Linked DNA regions of Homo sapiens: region 2 is linked to region 1. Evidence: fine-mapped expression QTL. Tissue or cell type: tibial nerve. Region 1 holds a variant in brackets; the other region holds the start of a gene. All regions are shown on one strand. Distances are between the middles of the regions.

The links. PIP is the estimated chance that this variant, and not a neighbour inherited with it, causes the effect. A credible set is the group of variants that fine-mapping cannot tell apart.
Region 2: RDH10-AS1 starts here. The variant in region 1 is the best candidate, but not a certain one, in a credible set for the expression of RDH10-AS1 in tibial nerve (GTEx, PIP 0.57).

What each region holds. Positions count from the first base shown.
Region 1 is chr8:73,202,120-73,206,284 of GRCh38, forward strand. LOC107986891 (a long non-coding RNA gene) reads right to left here and starts at 3,240. Exons shown (of 3, transcript XR_001745719.1): 1 at 3,169-3,240. The variant G/T (reference allele first, on the strand shown) is at 2,049.
Region 2 is chr8:73,354,510-73,358,674 of GRCh38, forward strand. It overlaps RDH10-AS1 (RDH10 antisense RNA 1), which reads right to left and starts at 1,952. Exons shown (of 6, transcript NR_125388.1): 1 at 1,783-1,952.

The sequences.
Region 1 (4,165 bases):
TAACAAGTATACATGATGACCAATATCATCATTTTTAACATAATTATCAATAGATGTTTCTGGAAACCTGGAGAAAGGAGGAGGTAAGTAATTATTTAGCTGAATAAACTGGTATTAATATAGCCTAGCAAAAGACTTGAAAGAATCGTCTTAAATGATTTAGGTAAAAAAATGACTGAAATTTGCATGTTGTTTCTATGTTAGCTAGAGCTCAAAAGTACTTGAAAAAAATTTCCTGAGTGTTTTATTTACAATTTCCTTTCACTATTAAAATTTTATGAAAACTCATTTGATTAGAGATAGTACAAAACTAAATTCTAGCCAGTACTAGTGTGAATGGCACAAGATTTAAAACCAGCAGAATCCGAGTGGATGTGGTTTTTCTCCTTATGTGCGTTCGTGTGTGTGTAGCATGACATTTATACCTAGCCCACCCAGAGACCAAAACAAGGTGCTCATAGGAGAACCAAGCATCTTGGGGTCAGTCACTTTTAATCAAATTAATGTAAACTTAGCAGAACAAAACCTTCTCTACCAGATAAAAGCTGTTGGGCCTGTGGGCTACTTGGGTTAGAAACATTCTTCAACCTTTTTACAACCATAGTACAGAACTACGTTTTTATTCCCCTCCCAATAATTCTGGGCATATCTTTGGTAAGGCACTTATTGTCACGAAGTAGTATCCTGGAGAAAATATCTCCTATTTAGGGTTCAGGAAATAGATCTTTTTAAAAATTCTGGGTTACCACTGAGTACAGACTGTGGGAGAGGAATGACACGACCCCACGCCGTTTACTTTGTCTGTCCTTGGCTGTGGTTCCTCCTTTTGATGGAGTCACCAATTAGGAATCCAAGTCGGCGCAGAGTTCAGTATTCATGAGGGTTTGGGCGGGCAGCGGCATGGAGTACCCAGGGATTCCAACATATTCTCATGACTGAGACACTTTGAGGGAGCCTGACTGGGTAACAGAGAACAGCCCTGACCTTTCAACCCGATGAATTCAAATGCAATTTGTCATCCAATGTAAAATGAATCTGACCATGTGTAATCCCGTAGGATGGAGAGGCCTTGTCCCGGAAAAACTCCAGAACATGAAAGAGGGGCATTGAAAAATAAAACCCACCAAATGGTTAAGGGCACACATCGATATGTCAATAACAAATTCCTTTTTCCAAAATAATGAACAGCCCTGTGATTCCTTGGGCAGGGTAGACACCATGAACACACACAGGAGTCGAAGTGGGGAGTTGCTGCTCTTTTTTTTTCTCCTTGGAATTTGAAATACGTTTTCATATTTGCTTTTCACTCTCTCCTTTTTAACGTTTAAAATTAAGCCATCCTGTGCTGGTTATTGTGTTCTCCTCCTCTTTGTAACCACCGAAGAAGAAAGCTTGAATTGTTACTGTCTCTCTCTTATTTCTGAAACTGCTTTCTCTGGGGAACTTTCTGAATGGATCAGGGCCTGGATCAGGGCAGGATAGAACACACCCTCTGGGAGAGGCTCAGAGAGCCAAACCTGAGATCAAAGCACCCAATCTCTCAAATTCTCTGAGGAAGTGTCCTGGTAGTTCCAGGACCTACTCTGCTTTTTCCACCCAGGGAGCTTTCAGCTGCCTTAGCATTATTTCAAAGAGTATTTTCAAAGTAAATCTCCTGGAGCTGGGTGCAGGGGCACATGCCTATAGTCCCAGCTTGGACTGCTTGAGCCAAGCAGTAAGTTATCAAGGCAACAGTGAGCTATGATTGCACCACTACATTCCAGCCTGGGTAACAGAGTGAGACCCAAACTCTAACCCACCCCTCGACAAAAAAAAAGTAAATCTCTTTTCTGCTATTGTTTCCAGTATGCTTAAGCGTCACCATTAATTGGGTAGCAATTATAAAGGCTGGAATGGCCTGCAAGCCCTGTGAATTATGACATGCATTGTTCCTTTGGCATTTGAATTTCATCATTAACGTCCATTTGAAAGCTTACAATTATGAAATAGAGTGATCTTGTAAATAACTACAAATAATTCACTGTGTGTGAGCACAAGCACACACTTAT[G/T]CCTAGAAGTCATTTGGTCGATAAGAGTAAAGAAACAAAGACTTCTACAGCTTTAACCTCTGTCCTCTCTATTTTCTCTTGAAGTGTTTTTGAATTTCTTCCCTTGCAAGATCAACAAAATATTCAAGTCTGCGGGAGGGGAGAGGCTGGAGACAAGTGGGTTGAAGGGTACAAACATACAGTTAGATAGAAGGGATACATTCAATGTCTGAGAGCAGAGTAGGGTGACTATAGTTAAGAAAAATGTTTTATACTCGGGTGATGGACACCCTAAATACCCTGAGTTGATCACTACGCATTATATACATGTAACACAATTTCACATGTACCCCATTAATTTGTATAAATTTTTTTTTAAATTCAAAGGTCTCACCCCAACCTGTCAGAGACATCTCTTAAGCCACAATAAGTTAACATCAGTCTTGCCATTTGTAATTATAGAAGAAATATCTCCACTTTCTAGACTTCTACTTTCATGAGGAGCTCAGTGGCCAGGAATGGACCATGACCCAGTGGAATTGTTATGATTTGGAATATTTGAAAAGGTGAACTTTTATCTAAACAGGGTGGTCATGAAAACTATGCTGCATTATTTTCTTTCCCACTTTTATTGTTAAAATAATTGCATTTTGTTACTGTTAAAATATAACAGGAAGAAATTTGCTGCATATCTTTGTTATAAAACATGTTTGCGGCTGGGCGCGGTGGCTCACGCCTGTAATCCCAACACTTTGGGAGGCTGAGGCGGGCAGATCACGACGTCAAGAGTTCAAGACCAGCCTGGCCAACATGGTGAAACCCTGTCTCTACTAAAAATACAAAAACTAGCCGGACGTGGTGGCAGGCACCTATAGTCCCAGCTTCTCAGGAGGCTGAGGCAGGAAAATCGCTCGGACCCAGGAGGTGGAGGGTGCAGCGAGCCGAGATGGCACCACTGCACTCCAGTCTGGGCGACAGAGAGAGACTCCATCTCAAGAAAAAAAAAAGAAAGAAAAAAAAAAGAAAGAAAAAAGAAAACCTGTTTGCCTCCCTTCCCCATCTTTCTCACCTCCCCATACAGAGCTGATGTCCCAGTCACTAATTTTTCACAATCCTGCAATAATGACACACATATTCATACCTTCAAGCCAACCAATGGGCTGTGTTTCCACAACTTGAAATGACCTTCTTGACCTCGTAAAGCCTCCTCCAAATGTTCATACTCCCCTGTAACTCACAAACAGAATTAGGTGCTCTGACCTGTTTTCTCACACAGAATTTTACACACACCTCCATGTCTGCACTTAACCTCTCAATTGGACTCGGCTGCTTACAGGTCTTTCTTTCCCTCAGTGAAGAGCCAAAACACCTATTCATCTCAGCACTCTTATTTTTTTAATTTGTGTCATTTTAATAGAGTATGTCAACCTAGATAACAAACAGAGGGAAACTCTCTAAAGCAAAATGACATTTATTTGGGAATGGGCATTGCAATGGGAATACATGTGCCATAGTAAACTGTGTGTTCAGGGAGATAAAGGAAGATTTTTAAAGAAAAAAGGAGGATTATATAATTATTTTGCGATAATTATCCTTGGCCACACAGATCAATAACAAGGTGGTACCAGTCCGAGGCTGGATAGGAAGTTTTTGGGCAAGTGTCTTCAGCAGAAGTTTTTTTTTTTCTTTTTTTTGAAATGTAAGGTTGCAATGGCCTTTGTGCAATGAAAGGTTGTGGTTTTGGTAGAGTCTTGTATTACTTTTTTGCTGTTTTTGTTTTTGAGAAAAGGTCTCCTCTGTTGGCCAGACTGGAGTGCAGTGGTGCAATCACAGCTCATTGCAGCCTCCATCTCCCGGGCTCAAGCAATCAAGCAATCCTCCCACCTCAGCCTCCCGAGGAACTGGGACTAGAAGTGTGAGACATCACACCAGGTAATTTTTAAATTTTTCTGTAGAGACAAGGTTTCATTGTGTTGCCCAGACTGGTCTTGAACTCCCGAGCTCAAGCGATCTTCCCTCCTCTTGCTGGGATTGCAGGCATGAGCCGTTGCACCCGGCCTTGATAGTTCTTGTTATCAGGCATTCGTGCATGAGATCCCTTCCTTCATGGCCTTCCCCAGCTCTGTTTGTCAGAAGTT
Region 2 (4,165 bases), 150 kb after region 1:
GCCTCAGCCTCTCTAGCAGCTGGAACTTTTCAGGTGTGCACCACCATACTCGGCTAATTTTAAAATAATTTTCACATTTTTTTTTAATAGATACAGAGTCTTGCTATGTTCCTCAGGCTGATCTTGAACTCCTCGGCTCAAGCAATCCTCCTGCCTCAGCCTCCCAAAGTGTTGGGATTACAGACGTGAGCCACTGTGCCCAGCCTGTGTGGACTTTAGAACCTAATCTCTAATAAAGTTGGACTCCTCTGCCTGTTATGCTGTCCACTGACTATCCACTAATTCAATCTGTGGCATTCACTAACTCAGTACCGTGTGTTACAAAGTCCCTACTATGTGTCAGTAACTATTCTACACACCGAAACTAGAGAGATGGATCCAAAGAAGTACCACTCTCAAAGAGGGAACAATATCTTCAATATCTAATATTTGTATAATGTTTTACATCTACAAAGTGTTTTGTAATGCTGATCCAGTTTTATCTACCCAGCATCTCTCATTTTCTGGGATTGCACCTCTGTCTTAGCTTGAGCTACTATAAAAATACCATAGACTGGGTGGCTTAAACAACGGATGTTCATTTCCCAATTCTGGAGCTGGGAGGTCCAAGATCAAGGTACTGGCAGATTTGGTTCTTGGAAGATCCTCTTTCTGGTTTATAGATGACTTTTCACTGTGTTCTCTTATGACCTTTCATTGGTGTATGTGAGGAAATCTCTGTCTTCCTCTTCTTAAAAAGGTGCAAATCCCATTTTGAGGATACCAGCCAAGATCTCATCGAATCCTAATCACCACCAAAGGCACCAACTCCTAACACCAGCACTTTGGGATTTAGGGCTTCAATGTATCAAACTTAGGGGCCTACAAACATTCAGCCCGTAGCAACCCCGTAGCACCCATACCTTTAGGAAATACTCTTTCCCACACTGCAATCCTGTGTTCTCAGTGGGAGCCATCACAGTTTCTAAACTGTGGCTCCCCTGGTCATATTTAATTGACTGAAGTGGGGCCACAAGGCTTGAGTTGGGTCAGTCATGATAATTTTTGCCCACTGTCCAAACTGACCGGTCAATGGAAGAGTACCCAGCCCCAACCTGGCCAATCAAAGTTCTTTCCAGGATTTGTCCACCAGAAACTACAGAAAGAGACTACAGAAAGTGCTGAAGCTCTGTGATCTGTGGCGTGTGAACAGTAGCTGGCCATGTTTCCAGGGAGGAATATGGCACCAGTGCTCAGAGGGCAGCAGGAGTGTGAAGGATGGAGAGAGAGCCTCCTGCAGCAGCTGTTTCTGCCACCCTGAGGGCCTCCATACCGCTGCCTCTTCCAGGGCAATAGGAGATTACCCATAAATTCTTCCTTTTGACTGAGCTGGTTCAAAATGGTTTTCTGGGCCAGACGCAGTGGCTCACACCTGTAATCCCAGCACTTTGGGAGGCTGACGTGGGCAGATCACTTGAGTTCAGGAGTTTGAGACCAGCCTCGCCAACATGGAGAAACCCCATCTCTACTAAAAATACAAAAATTAGCCAAGGGTGAAGGTGGTGCACCTGTGGTCCCAGCTACTCAGGAGGCTGAGGCAGGAGAATCACTTGAACCAGGGAGGTGGAGGTTGCAGTGAGCCAAGATGGCACCACTGCAATCCAACCTGGGGGATAGAGTGAGACTCTGTCTCAAAAAATAAATAAATAAATAAATAAAAATAAAAGATGGTTTTCTCTGTGTCACTTACAACCAAAGTGCCTGAGATATTCTTTTTCAGACATCTTTTCATTTTCTCCTCACCTTGAGGAAGGAGCTCAGAGAGGTTAAGTGAACTGCCCAATATCCCACTGCTCCAGAAGAGAGCAGCAAGAATTCAAATGCTGCTTCACATCCTGGTTCACGCCCTCAAAAGAGGTTTCCCGCCCTGGATGCCAGCCTCTCTCACAGGTGTTTTCTGTACTCTCAGTGGTGTCTTTTTTACAGCCCAGAGCCGCACATGTCCTGTCCGTGTTCCGGTCCTGCGGTGACTCACAGTCACATCACAGTGCAGGCAGACGCTCCCCTGACAGCCCATTGGCTCTTCGTTATCTGACTCCTGCCTACCTCGCCCAGCCCCCTCCTCCTCCCTCCAGCTCATGTGTGCTCCCCATCCAACCCCCTGCGTGAGTCACATGCTGCTCCCTCGGCCAGAGCCTTTGTTTGCCTGCCTTGGAGGCCTGGCATATGCCCCAGTCCCCACCCACCCAGGAAGCCTCCACTGCCACCTACCACCCAGGCGGAGCCCCGGCCTCCTCCTTCCTCTGTGTCTTCCTGGGATCGACCTCCAACCCAGCAGCTGTCTCATTGTTTTCAAATTCCCAACCTCTGCCTTCCAGAATAAAGGCATGTGGGGACAGGGACAGGAACTTCATCTATCTCTAGCCCCCTGCACAATCCCTGCCACATAGTGGTATTCAGTTTGTTGCTCAGGGGATAAACAAGAGCACCAGAAATATGAAGGTCGATGCAAATATCGAGTATTCATATTTCTTTAATAATCCACATTGTTTGGGAGTCAACTGATGTGATGCTTTGAAGCCAGTGAAAGCTGAACGGGCAAATCTGAAATACCTTTTCAGAGATTCATCTGCACTCTATGTACCCAATTAATGCTGAGCCATTAGTCCTTTCCGAAGCTGCCAGGATCTATTAAGCCATTTAACTTATCCTTCCGCACTTCAGGATCAGTCCCAAGGGCATTTTTTCAGGCCTGGGCAGCCAAAGTATAAATGACTTAAGTGGTGAGCTTTCTCTCACTCCCCCTGGGACCCCAGTCCTCCAAAGCAGAGCTTTAATGGCGCTAAAGCACTGTGAAGCGAGGAAGCGCCTAAAGCTGCCACTAGAGTCGGCCTCAACCCTGAAGGAAATCCTGGTTTGGAGCCCTTGCTCAGGGCGGGCCTTCTGAATAACTGCAACAGGAAAGCACCCTCTGTGGGGTGATTGGAATGGTCCCAGGAAAGTCCCCAGGCCTAAGGATGCCCCTCAGGAATTCACAACAGTGCTTGAAATCCCCTCCATTTATCACTTAATAAGTATTTCTTGAGCACCTACTAGGTGCCAGGCACTTAGGGATTCTGACAGGAATCCTTATAGGTTTGTTATTTTGAGCTAACTGAGGCTTTATCCTGAGCTCAAAAGCAAATATCTCTTGGAGGATAACCCACTGAGCATTATCAAGTCATCAAATACCATCCTTCCCAGGACACCACTAAGGAAGGTGGCAGCTGTATGGGGAGGGTCTTAGGACTCATATGGATACAAGTTGCTGGGGAAAAGAAGAGGAGTGAATCCTGTGGAACACAGGCTAACTCCCTGTGTCATGAGTGGCTGCCATGGGTCAGGTCAAAGGCAACTTCCATTTCCCCACCCCTGCAGCCTCATGAAATTGCAGAGAAACAAGCAGGGTGGGCATGTCAAATACACCTCGTTTATCAGATTCGCCTATATTCCTCAACCTGGTATCCCCCCCCCGCTTTTTTTTTTAAGATGGAGTCTCGCTCTATCACCCAGGCTGGAGTGCAGTAGCGTGATCTCAACTCACTGCAACCTCTGCCTCCTGAGTTCAAGTGATTCTCCTACCTCAGCCTCCTGAGTAGCTGGGACTACAGGCGTGCACCACCACGCTCGACTAATTTTTGTATTTTTAGTACAGATGGGGTTTCACCTATTGGCCAGGCTGGTCTTGAACTCCTGACCTCAAGTGATCCACCTGCCTTGGCCTCCCAAAGTGCTGGGATTACAGGTATGAGCCACCGTGCCTGGCCCTGGTCCCATTTTTAATTCTCTTAAGAAATGCTTTAGATCTGCAAGTGGGGTGTGCAGATCTAAGCTTCCTAGGTTTGGCATATAGTTTAGCCTCTGTGAGCAAAACCTATTTAGCCAGGACCAACTCTAAGTTGCACCCATAATAATAACACAACAGCTAGTGCTCTCATTTACCAAGTACCCACTAGATGCCAGGTGCAGTAGTGGATGCTCTGTGTGATTGGTGTTTTGCAATCATGTCAAGGGCATATACTTTTAAGAACCCAACGCTTCGAGGGGATATTTGCTCAAGATCACACAATTAGTCAACAGATGAGGTAAGAGTAAACACAGTCCCCACTTGTGCAACTCCAGGACCCATATTCATGACTATTATGCT